Linked DNA regions of Homo sapiens: all the other regions are reported to be linked to region 2. Evidence: microRNA targets listed by miRTarBase, many of them from high-throughput screens and not tested one by one. Region 2 holds a microRNA gene; each other region holds the end of a gene's coding sequence.
The links. Region 2 holds the annotated microRNA hsa-miR-4699-5p (AGAAGAUUGCAGAGUAAGUUCC, at 1,064-1,085, shown strand). A microRNA usually pairs through its seed, bases 2 to 8, with sites in the 3' UTR of a target mRNA and lowers its output. Matches are read on the target gene's strand: a 7mer-m8 pairs with bases 2 to 8, a 7mer-A1 pairs with bases 2 to 7 and ends in A, and an 8mer does both.

Region 1: miRTarBase lists PRORP as a target of hsa-miR-4699-5p. Seed matches in the 3' UTR shown: 7mer-m8 at 1,881-1,887.
Region 3: the mRNA of SRPRB is a reported target of hsa-miR-4699-5p. Seed matches in the 3' UTR shown: 7mer-A1 at 1,738-1,744.
Region 4: the mRNA of ZNF326 is a reported target of hsa-miR-4699-5p. Seed matches in the 3' UTR shown: 8mer at 1,953-1,960.

Annotation. Positions count from the first base shown.
Region 1 is chr14:35,273,040-35,276,137 of GRCh38, reverse strand. PRORP (protein only RNase P catalytic subunit) reads right to left here. Exons shown (of 8, transcript NM_014672.4): 8 at 1-2,703. The coding sequence ends at 2,572. PRORP-PSMA6 (PRORP-PSMA6 readthrough) reads right to left here. Exons shown (of 15, transcript NR_182666.1): 8 at 1,847-2,703. Among named protein-coding and RNA genes, the nearest start is that of PSMA6, 18 kb to the left of the region's middle.
Region 2 is chr12:81,157,334-81,160,431 of GRCh38, forward strand. MIR4699 (microRNA 4699) reads left to right here and starts at 1,055; the gene lies at 1,055-1,128. All of the region lies in intron 7 of ACSS3 (acyl-CoA synthetase short chain family member 3), which reads left to right.
Region 3 is chr3:133,819,183-133,822,280 of GRCh38, reverse strand. SRPRB (SRP receptor subunit beta) reads right to left here. Exons shown (of 7, transcript NM_001379313.1): 7 at 789-2,728. The coding sequence ends at 2,515. Among named protein-coding and RNA genes, the nearest start is that of SRPRB, 15 kb to the right of the region's middle.
Region 4 is chr1:90,027,358-90,030,455 of GRCh38, reverse strand. ZNF326 (zinc finger protein 326) reads right to left here. Exons shown (of 12, transcript NM_182976.4): 12 at 1-3,098. The coding sequence ends at 2,755. Among named protein-coding and RNA genes, the nearest start is that of ZNF326, 34 kb to the right of the region's middle.

The DNA.
Region 1 (3,098 bases), not on the chromosome of region 2:
ACGGGTCTCCCTGTGTTGCCTAGGCTGGTCTCCAACTCCTGGCTTCAAGCAATTCTCCCATTTGGCCTCCCAAAGTGCTGGAACTGTAGGTGTGGGCCACCATGCCCTGACTCCTCCCCCATCTCTATGTGCCAGTAGAAGAAAGAGTATTTGGGAATTAGAAGAGCTGGGTTATGGCTGAAATGTCTGCACTAACTAGCCGTGGGATTCAGGGAAGCCAGGTCATCTTCCTGGGTCTGTTCCTCATCTCCAAAATGGACTTTACATGCTCTAAGGTTACTCCTGCTCTAAAGTTCTAGTTTTCTTCTTGTAGCTTCTCCCGTCTTTTTTTTTTTTTTTTAAGAGACAGGGTCTTGCTATGTTGCCCAGGTTGGTCTCCAACTCTGGGCCTAAAGTGATCCTCCTGTCTTGGCCTCCCAAAGTGCTGGAATTAACAGGTATGAGCCACCACTTCGGCCTCCTCCTCTATCTCTATGTGCTCCTTTTTTGGGAATTTGCATTAGCCTTTTAGATGGGCTTAATAAATACTTTTTGTCTTCTTAAAATGTTTTTCTTAAAACTATGATAGTTACTTAAAAAAAGAAGTTTAGCTCACTGAAAGCACAGTTTCCTAAGTATGTAGTTTATGAAATTTGGAAAATAAGCAGACTGAATTTATTAGAGCTTTTGCAGTATCTTTTAATGCTCTCAATATATCCAATGTTTTCCTGGAGAGCTCTTTTGTCTTGGTGTGCAGTAATGTTGCATTCAGTAAATAGGTAAGAAGATAAAACGTCCCCTCCTTGGATTTTCCTAAATTGTTTCTCTGTGCATAATACATACCCTAATTATACACATGTATATGGTTTGATATAAAAGAGGTCATTGTTTATTTCATGTAAGTAATTATCTTTTCTTACCCTAACTTACTTTGAGGTATATTGTCATAAATGTAAATATATCAATTTAAAATGTTTAGTGTGAGGAATTTTAACTAATATATACATATAGCTATGTTACTATTACCCAAATCAATATAAGAAACTTTCCATCACCCCGAGAAAGTTCTCTCAAGTTCTCTCATATCCCTTTCCTCAGGCAATTACTATTCTGATTTTTATCACAATAGAGTAGTTTTTGCCTGTTCTTGCATATTGAATACAGTATGTATACGTAAAGAAAGAACTATCATGAAGGGGTGCAGACATGAATATTTTCAGCTGAAATCAAGGGCTAATAAACTGTAAGCTGGCTAGTGAGTGGAAAAAACAGAAATGTAACTATTAAAATATAATCACTTTGTTAAATTAAGTCAAACTTGATTAAGTGGAAAAAAATTGGCATATTTTAGAAAGCCCACATATACTGAATGATGAAATTAATAGTGTTCACAAAATGTTGAACCAATTTGGAAAAGAGATTATAGAATGAAGAAAAAACCATCATAGTCTAGAGAAGTGAGGCTGGGCACTGTGGCTCAAGTCTGCAATTCCAGCACTTTGTTTTGTTTTGAGACAAGGTCTCGCTCTGTCACCCAGGCTAGAGTGCAGTGGTGCAACGTTGGCTCATTGCAGCCTTGACCTCTGAGGCTCAAGCAATCCTCCTACCTCAGCCCCCAAAGTAGCTGGGACTATGTGTGCAAACTACCATGCCTGGCTAATTTTTAAATTTTTTGTAGAAATGAGATCTTACTATGTTGCCTAGGCTGGTCTTGAACTCCTAGACTCAAGTGATTCTCTCGCTTCAATCTCCCAAATTGCTGGGGATCGACTGAGGCCAGGGGTTGGAGACTAGTCTTGTCAACAGAGTGAGACAGCCATCTCTACAAAAAAAAAAAAAAAAATTAGCCAAGCCTGGTGATACATGCCTGTAGTCCCAATTACTCAGGAGGGCTGAGGTAGGAAGATTGCTTGAGCCTGGGAGTTTGAGGCTGCAGTGAACTGTGATCACGTCACTGCACTCCAGCCCTGGCGACAGAGTAAGTTGAGACTCTATTTCCAAAAAAAATAAGAAAAAGAGGAGTGAATGCCCCCTCTTCTCCAATCCAAATAATTGGATGATAAGTAATTAAAAACTGCTATGAATAGTAAGCCTTTAGTATCTTGGCCAGTTTATTACAGAGGACGATAAATGATTCCATGTGGATAGGGCATAACATACAGAGAATGAGACTATGCCAGAAATGGGAGGAGGCATTTGAAACAACATGAGTATCTCAGGGACAGATGGATTGATTCTGCTATTGGTAGGCCTGGAAGGCAAGGTCAGAAGTAGCAAAAAATGGATACCAAAAGCACTATTAGTCACCCAAGCTAAGTGGAATAGCTGGCCCAGTAGGAGAAATGCAGGTTTTGCTCTACACTAAGTTCTCCAACTCTTGATAAGCCTCCAAAAACAAATGTTAGGGGAAAAAAACGCAGCTGGTTATGAAAAGATATATCTCATTTCATTAAAAAATCAATGTCAATGCTGTTAATAGAATCCTTTTATCTTCAGGACAGAGGCAATGCCCTAAACAAACACCAGCTCAAGAGCCTCTGATGCCAACCTAGAGGGTACCCAAACACAAACTTAGCATAGAGGTAAGAATCTCTATGTCTTTTGGTGGAGGCAAAGCCATTTGGTTGGTACTTCACAGGAACATCTTTCTACCAAGTCTTCATCATATGGTATGTGCCACGAGTCTCCAGTTGTTTGCACCACTGTGTCATAGCTGAGAATACGCTGTTGAATTAAAAAGAGAACAAAACATTGAGAACAACACTAAAGGGCTACTTGGCCATTTCTCTTTCTGACACTTCTCAAGTTTGCTCCAGAAGAGTATTGATAATGGATTATCTCACTTAATAATGGATTTTCAAACAGCAGCAAACTCTGTGAAGATGAGCCCTAATATTAGGAGTTCCTTTTTTTGAGGGGTCTCATTTTTAAGTCTAAAGACTCTCTGTAGAAGCATTACATTTATGTAATACAGACGTTCTTTTGTTGGCTCTATCAGTTTTGTGTGTGAGAGTGAAAAATTTCAAATCCAGTCAGCCTTCCACAACTGCAGGTTCTGTATCCCTGGCAAACAACCACAGATTGAAAATATATGAAAACAAAACGAAACAAAACAAAAC
Region 2 (3,098 bases):
AGTAATTGAAAGGAACTTCCTCAACCTGACAAAAGATCACCTATGAAAAAACCTGCTGCTAATATCATACCTAATCATAAAAGCCTGATTGTTTCTCCTCTGTTGTTCAGGAACAAGGCAAGTATTTCCACTCTCACCCTCTATTCAACATATCTGTGGAAGTTCTAGCTCATTTAATAAAGAAGTATAGGGAAGCTGGGCGCGGTGGCTCACGCCTGTAATCCCAGCACTTTGGGAGGTCAAGGCGGGCAGATCATGAGGTCAGGAGTTCAAGGTCAGCCTGACCAATATGGTGAAACCCCATCTCTACTAAAAATACAAAAATTAGCCAGGCATGGTGGTGCGCACCTATAGTCCCAGCTACTCGGGAGGCTGAGGCAAGAGAATCGCTTGAACCCAGGAGGTGGAAGTTGCAGTGAGCCAAGATCGCAACACTGCACTCCAGCCTGGGCAACAGAGCAAGACTCCCTCTCAAAAAATAAATAAATAAATATAAACAGAAATATAGAGGAAGAAAAGGCATACACACCAGAAGGGTAGAAATAAAATTGTCTTTATTTGCAGATGGCATGATTATTTGCATAAATGATTACAGAATACACACACACACACACACACACACACACACACACACACAAATCCCATAACTAATAAGTGAGTTCAACCCAGTCTCAGGATACAAGATTAACATACAAATATTCATTGTGTCTCTATAAATCAGCAATGGCCACATATGGCCATAAAGGGCATCACGAAGGATCCTTGTAGAGATGAACTGGTTTGTATCTTGACTGTATCAATATTCTGATTGTGATAACATATTGTAGTTTTGCAGTTTTTACACCTGGGGAAAACTGGTTAAAGGGTATATCTCTGTATTACTTCTTACAACTGCATGTAAATCTGCTTATTTTCCTGATAATTACCACATTTTCAAACAAATTCATAAAACTACCTCATTAAAACAAACAACAACAAAAATCTCTAATCCCTTATCTCCTGACAGCTACAACATTCTCTCTTTAAGGCCTTGTCTACACTCAACAGCTTCAACAGCAATTGGAGAAGATTGCAGAGTAAGTTCCTGATTAAGAAATGGAATTTACTCTGCAATCTTCTCCAATTGCTGTCACCATCATTCCATAGCTACAGCTTTTCCTAACATCCCCAGTCATCTCTACTTGCCAAAGTCAATGGGCATTTTCAGTCTTCACTGTGCTTGACTCCTCAGCATTTGAAAGTGTTGGCCATTTGCTCGATCCTAATCATTCTCTTTCCTTCCAAGGTACAACGTGCTCCTGTCTAATGTACCACATGCTCCTGTTTCCCTGCAGTTATTCTTATGCTCATTCCTGTCCCAGGAACATTGCCTGAAATATATGCTACTTGTCTGTTAGATTTCAGCTGGTGTCACTTCCTCAGGGAAGCCCTCCTTGACCTCCCTGATTAGGTCAAATCCCTTTATCATGGTCTTTTAGCACATTGCATTTTCCCTTGGTGGTTTGTATAAAACTTGCAGATTCATATTAGTCTTTAGGCTCCTTTGATGTGTTCGTTTGCCCTTCTTTCCTCTAACTGTACTAAGGAAGGAGTCATCTGAGTTTGTGTCCACCGTCAATTCTCAGCTCCTTGCCTTAATGACACATATTCAGTATTTAATACATATTTGTTAAATAAATGCCTGAATGACAATATCAGAAGAAAACTTGATTTATACGTAAAGATTTTTTCTATCAATGAGTAAGAGTAATTTAAATTTTCTTTTTTTTACAACAGGACTGCATGAGCAACTTATATAAGTCAGGTTATATGTTTTATAGACAGAGATTTACTTTTATCAGTGGAATTGGACATATTTAAATACAGAACACCTGTATTTAAGTAGTTTATTTTCTGAGAGGGAAATTTATAGCACTAAATAGATAGATTAGAAAAGAGGAAAACACTCAAATCAAGAATATAAGCTCCTATCTCAAGAACCTAGGAAAAAAGGAACAAAATATGCCCAAAACCAGGAAAGAATAATAAAGTTACCAAATAATAAAGGAATAAGTCAGGATATATGTTTTATAGACAGAGATTTACTTTTATCAATGGAATTGGACATATTTAAATACAAAACACCTGGCCAGCTCAGTCAGTGCAGTATGAGATGTTTAAAGTATGCAATTCTTGAAGGAAAATTGGATTGACCAGTTAAAATATGGAAACCAATTCTGAATAATTTAGTCTTTACTTTTGAGAGGAAAAAATTGAATGGTACTTCTTTAGAAATCTACTTCATTAATAGAGCAGTGATTCCAATAGATCTAACCCTAACCGTGTATGAACAAGAACAGATATTTGGTAGGATGGTTTTGCCAAAGAGAAGGGATAAAACACAAGCAATCTTTTCACATAGGAATGCAATGTACAAACAAATTTAGCTAACAGCCTAGTGTGTATGCGCATTCACATGTGTGTGATGGCAAATGGTGATTATACAGAGATATGCTCCCTTGCCTCTCTCTTCTTTCTAGTATTTCTTCCCTTTACCAGACTGTCATCTGCAGAATCAAAATCCAACACATTTCTCTAAGGCAAATAAATCTTTCCGTGTCCTGCCTTTCTCCTTATCTTTGCTGTCTACCAATGTGCAAAAGTGTGTGTTGTACACATATTTCAATTTCATGATACAGTAAGCCCAGGCTTCCACAATGACAGTGGTGTGGTTAAGCAAGAAATGAGATTACTGTTCCTTGGCTAGAGTATTACGTAGGTCTAAAATGGAATGTTAGTAGTTACTGTTTCTCCTTAAATCCGGCTTTAGAGTAAGCCATAAACTGGTTGGTATAATTGGTCTTGATATAGCAGTTGTCATTTTTATGTAATAACAGTCTTCTTTTCCAGTCAAGGGATATAAGTTTGCTCTCATTTTACATTTGTTTGTATTTCACATATGGTATACATCACAGCAACAAGCCTTTTCAATAAATTCTTCAGTATGTTTACTAGATTAGCAAGGGCAGATGGCTATTTGTTAATAATTCAACAATTAACTTTGAAGGTATATGCCATACTCTGCCTTCTCAGGCAATAAATTGAATTAGAGAAAGGTG
Region 3 (3,098 bases), not on the chromosome of region 2:
TTGCATTAGGCAGCTGCTGTCCTAGGAGGTCTCGGTGTCCATACACTGCCATGTTCCCAAGGTGTTTCAAGCTCAAAAGTCTCATCTATGTCATACAGTCGTGCCTAGTTGGCCCGTCTCCAAGACCTGACATCCATCCTTCTACTCTGGCCACACCTGCCCATCTCATGAAATGGGCCTACTTTAGTCAAATGCCCTCAGGGCCACAAAAGGGCACCACCTGAGTGGAGAGAGCACATTTGACCTCCCATCAAAACCCTTCCCAGTTCCCAAAGACTAGTCACCATGACCTCATCCTGGCCCAAAGCCACAAGAACGGAATGCCTGCTACTAGTACAGGAGTAAGAAGCAAGGTCAGAGTTCCCATGCCTGCTGACTTGACCCTGTCAGAAAAACTCAGCAGGGTGTGTGCCCCAAGAGACTTTAAAAACAAAGTAAAGGCACACGTGACACTCCAGGCCAGATCATCTCTAGGGGTGCCATGCGACTGACAAAAGACTTATTAAGCATGCAGATTCCTGAGGCAATACCAGACTTGCTATTGAATCAAATTGTCTGAGAGTAGGGTCCTCAAATCAGTTTAACAAGCATCGCAGGTAATTCTGATGCCCACTAACATTTGAGACCAGTGTTCCAGATAGAATTATCCTTTTTTGGAAGACCTTCTTTAGGCCTTGAATCAAACTCAAACTTGCAGCCCTTCTTCAGTCACTTTTTCTGGTGTGCTGCTTCCTCCAATAAAGTAAGATATTAACCAGAAAAAAATAAAAGAGGCTGAGAGGGACACATGCCTCTAACAGAAGCATCAAGCCACTGACTTTTATTCCCATGAGCTCCTACTATGATGACATAACATGTCACATTTATTGCTCTTACCTACTTCCTAAGTTACTGCTTGCCTAATAAGGAAAAGGGCAAGAAATAAGAGTCCAAAAGACACTCAGAACACCAGCAGCAGCTTTCAAGTAAGGACTCAGGGTCAGGGTCTCACAACTCCTCCATTTCATGTTTCATTTACATTGTCTTCGTGCTCCAGCAGCAAGGCTGACATGTGCTTTGGGGTAGGAGCCTGGAGTATTTCTGCCAGATGGTCTGAGGTGACGTATACTCCTAGAGCCCAAGTGACCACCAGAAGGGACATGTGAGACAGCAGGCAGAGGCCATACATGGAGGATCACACTCCCTCAGACGTCATCAGCCCCATGCTTTATCCTTTGACTCCCCCTGATCCTCAAGGCCAGGTGGGGTGCCCCTGCTGCATGCTCCAGAGAACTGTGGGCCTCTCCTACCATGGCTCTCAATGCACTGTTCCATAACTGGCTTCTCCCCTGGACAGAGCCACCCTGGTCTCCTTGTAAGCTTTAGTTGGGCTTGTCCCTGAGTGTGTGGGGTAGGAATAGGAGTGTGTTCTTGTGTATGTTGCAATCTTTAGGCTCAGGAGACAAGGAGTTAGACCTGAGTCCTGACATGTGCACTCATTTGTACTCACCATTACATTCTATTTAATTGCTTTGAGCCAGACAGGCTGTTTTCTTTACCATGAAATATACTAATCATTCAAAAAAGCCTTGTGTTTAAGAAGACAGCAAAAAACATCACTTCAAAAAGGCAACTTTTTTTTTTTCTTGGCATCAATGAATATGCACTTCAGAAATCTACAGAGAACTTTTTTCACTTTGTATTTGTTCCACAGCATTCTAGCCAGGAGTACAAAATAGGAGCTCTTCAAGCAGCACATGAAGATGGCCCAGGAGCCTTCAGCCATCCAGAGCAGCAGAGCAGCACCTAAATCTCCACACACTTCCCAGTATAACCACTAAGAACACACTAGACCCTTGGCATTAGGGGATTTATCATTTCCAGTTCTATTATCTGGGAATGACTCCAAGGGTTTGTGACAAGCTTTTGAAACGTAAGTGCTAAGACGAGTGTGGACAAGTCACTGAGCTAATGAAGAATAGACCCACTGTCTGCTTGGCTCTGCTATTTTGTACCTGTCTTCACATGTGGGGAAACTTCATAACTGTGCCCACAAATCAGAGAAATTCGCAAAGGACTAGACAATGTATTGCCTGTGAACTTCAGAGGCAACTGGAAATAGTGCAACTGGAAATCAACTAGCTTCATACATAGGCGGATTTGTTTCCAGGGACCAAAAGCACAGAAGATAAGAAAACTTTTCAGGTGATGGCCATATTCTCATCATATCCTCTCTGTGTGGAGTCTGCCTGTTGTCACAAAAACCTTGACCCTACATCAAGTTACACCTTAACAAAGGGAAGATACAGGCATCAGATAAAAGGTACTTGTTTGAAAGGCAGCCATAAGGGAGAACTGAACTTAAAAAAAAAAAAAAAAAAAATTCCAAGCTGGTTTCAACAGTACTTTGTTTCCAGAACAAAGAAATGTTTCTAACCACATCTTGTACCCCTTCCTCATCAACTCCAGACTACCACAGACCTTTTTCCAAAACTGTGTGTCACACATCCAGGTCTTGTGCTTTAGAGCTGCCTCTCAGGCAATTTTAGCCAGCCATTTCTCCAAGTCCTGGATGTCAGCAGAGCCCACGTCCCCTCTTCCACCCTTGGCACTGCACTCCAGGAACTCCACTTTGAGGGGCAACTGTGAGAATTCAAACTCTTTGCCTTTCTTCCCCAGCTGAGCAGGGGCAGTGCTGGAACTGTCCAGTGTGCTGGGGGCAGCAGAACGGGTAACTCGTAAGGTGTTGCTGTGGGGCAAAAGGAAAGAAGTCAGGAGGCAAAATTTTTATACAGCAATTAAATCATATTAGTTTCTAAACATTTCAGCACTCATTTAAAACTTAACTATAGAATTGCCAATTATGCTATTAAGATTGTTGAATAATCCTTTGCATTTATAAGTCCCTCTCTTGGACAGAGAGGTGAGGTAGGTGGGGCGGGCTGGGGGGGTCAGACCTCACAGGGCTAGAAGGCAGGTCAGCAGTAGACCAGGTCACACCAACTTTCTTTCAGCCCAAGGCCCCCTTCTAAGAGGATCTACTGAATGAAGCCGTCTAAAAATATATTTTTAAAATACATGCTTTAAGTGTTATAAAAACATAAGTTTCTGAAAGTTAA
Region 4 (3,098 bases), not on the chromosome of region 2:
TAACAAAAGGCCATTATGGCTGGTAAGAATGGTATATGATATAAAGTTGTAAAGCTAGGCCAGTCTGATCAACATGATAAGGAGTTCTAACTGTATAGGTACAAAAAAAAAAAAAGCATGAGATTAACATCATCTGAATTACATTTTTAAAAGCTTATACTTGTGTAGAAAACTGAATCTATCATGGTAAGGGTGGAATCAAGATTAGTTAACAAGAAATTATCATGACTTGAACTGGGTTGGTTGCAGTGGAGGTAGAAGAGTCGGCAGATAAATTTTGGAAGTAGAACAGACAGACTTTTTGGTAGACTGTAGGTAGAAAGTGATAAAAAGCGAATAATACAGGATAGTCCCTAGGCATGGAGCTGAAACAACTGTGTAGGTTATAAATAAATTTCTTTGGTTATTTAGAACTATGTATCTCACTTTGTAATAGAGAAAACAAGTGATACTTGAAAACAGAAGTTGAAAGGCGTTTAAGATCTTATATACATCCTTATTACAAAAGCAATGCAAATATAAACACTAAGGATCACAAAAACTAACCTGACTATAAAGTAAACTGCCCGCCTACAAATTATCCAATAGGAAATACATGAATTTGAATTTCTGAATTAAGCACAGTAACAAAATACACTTTTATTTATCATTACCTTGCAAATTAGCTAGGCTGTATAAAGGCTCATGCGTCCCACAAAAAAGTACTATTTAGATGTTCTTTCCTATCTCTCATTCTAAAACATTTACCCAGTTGTTACATAGGATTCTTGTTACATAATGGTTTTCTTCCCAAAAGTTTCATATCTCAATCAGACTACCAGAGACATTGTTTTAAAAAAAATCACTCAGCTTAGTATCAGAAGAACCAAATACTAATAACCTAGAGGAATTTATTATTCTTTTACCTTAGCCCTTCCACAAATATTTTTAAAAATAAAGGAGAAATAAGAGGGTAACAAGTCCTATTATCCTTAAAATTTGAACTCCTAAGCAAAACGGCTTTCAAAAGCCTGCTAAGTAAATACAGACTCCTAGATAGTATCCAAATTTATCTAGTCTTCAACTACCCTTCTCTTATTTGGCACCAAATCCCTAAAATTAGATGCAAGTATCTATCAGATATTGCTAGCTTAAAGCTAGGCAAACCTAGTTCACCTCAAAAAAAAAAAACTGTATTGGTTCAGAAAGTCTAGTTTTAAAAGCCTTATTTTACACAAAAAGATAAATTATCTGTGGGATTCTACAAATGTCCATACATTCACCCACTTAATACCTTACAATTTGATATATCCATCCATTTATCCATTCGATGCCTCAAAACTTTTCTAATTTCACTGAAATACAGCCCCCTATGCCAGGCATGGTGGCTCACACCTGCAATCCCAGCACTGTGGGAGGCCAAGACAGACAGGTCACTTGAGCCCAGGAGTTCAAAACCAGCCTGGACAACATGGTAAAACCCTGTCTCTACAAAAACTACAAAAATTAGCTGGGCATGGTGGCTCACACTTAACAGTCCCAGCTACTTGGGAGGCTAAGTTGGAGGATCGCTTGAGCCCAGGAGGTTGAGGCTACACTGCACTCCAGCCTGGGTGACAGAGTGAAACCCTGTCCCAAAAAAGAAAAAAAAAAAAAACTACGGACCCTACTCTCAAAAGAGGCCACAGTAAAGATTGAAAAAAATAAGAGCACTACTTTTTAGTGACATAGACGGTTGTTTGAAAATAAATTATTTAAGAATAGATCCTCTATCAAGCTCATGTTCTCTTTTTAAATATGTAGGTATATAAGCCATAAAAAGGAATTTTTTAAAAAGGATAGAAATATTTGAAAGAGAAATAATTCTTTTAAAAGAAAAGTCTGCTTCTTGGTTCTTCAGCCAAAAACAGACATGACAAAAGAACTAACACAACTACAGAAAACTTTGTATCAAATGTATTTTCAGCAAGACTTGAAGATTTGACACAGGCACAGGGAAAAGGAACAAACTTAAAAAGAGTATAAATAAGGTCAGTTCAAACTCACTTCTATTTGAAATGTGTTTTAAAAACAATTTTAGTCTTATATTTTAAAAATATGATTGAGAATTTTTTTTTCTTTAATTCAAGTCTTCTCAATCATCTTAAAATACTTGTGAGCTGAACTGATACATTAAGGCAAATTTTTATTTTAAATACTCATTTCATTGATGAACTCTGTTTCATTTAAACTGCTAATCCAGGGAGAAAGTTTTCGTAAAAAACATTTTATTGCTACAAAGGGAAACATGGTCACAAAGAGCCTTTAAGCGTATCTTAACGCAAATTACTATTCAATGTCTAATGCAGTAAAAAAATACACAGAGCACAAAATACTTGCCCAGTTTATATCTTCCAGGGTAAGTATTCAAAAAATTGATGCACACTTGAATATTCACTCCCAAGAGCAGCATTTAAGATAAAATGATTAGAATAGATATACTAACAATACACATTTGTTATCCTTAACACCAATAAAGTAATAAAAATTAAGCTTAAAAATTATACAAACAATTTATCGGATCTAAGTCTGGTAGCTATAAAAACTAAACTAAAATAGTTTTGCCTTCATTTTATTAAACAAATGTTAAACATTTAGAAATTATATAAAACAAATTTTAATATGTGGAATGCATGCAACATGGGTGTTAATTCATATTTTAAGCTATTAAATTTCTTACCCTTTTTTACATTAGAACCGAAATGTAAAGCTCCTTTTAAATCTAATACCTTATATTTAATTTTCTTCAGGTTGCTCAACAGGGAAGTCAGCAGGTTCTTCCTTTGCTGTCTCTTCCTCTAATTCCTCTACTTCCTCTACTTCCCCCACTCCCTCTACTTCTCCCACTACCCCTACTTCCCCTCCTTCCCCTACTCCCTGTATATTTCCCTCGCCCTCTATTCCTCCTTCTCTCACTTCCTCTACTTCTTCCACTTCCTCTACTTCCCCCACTTCCTCTGCTTCTTCTTCCTCATCTTCATCCTCCTCTTCTTCAATAGGTTCATCAATCTTCTCTTCATCCTCCTCATCTCCTTCTATTTGCTGATCCTGAGAATGGTCTTGAATTTCAAAAGGATTCT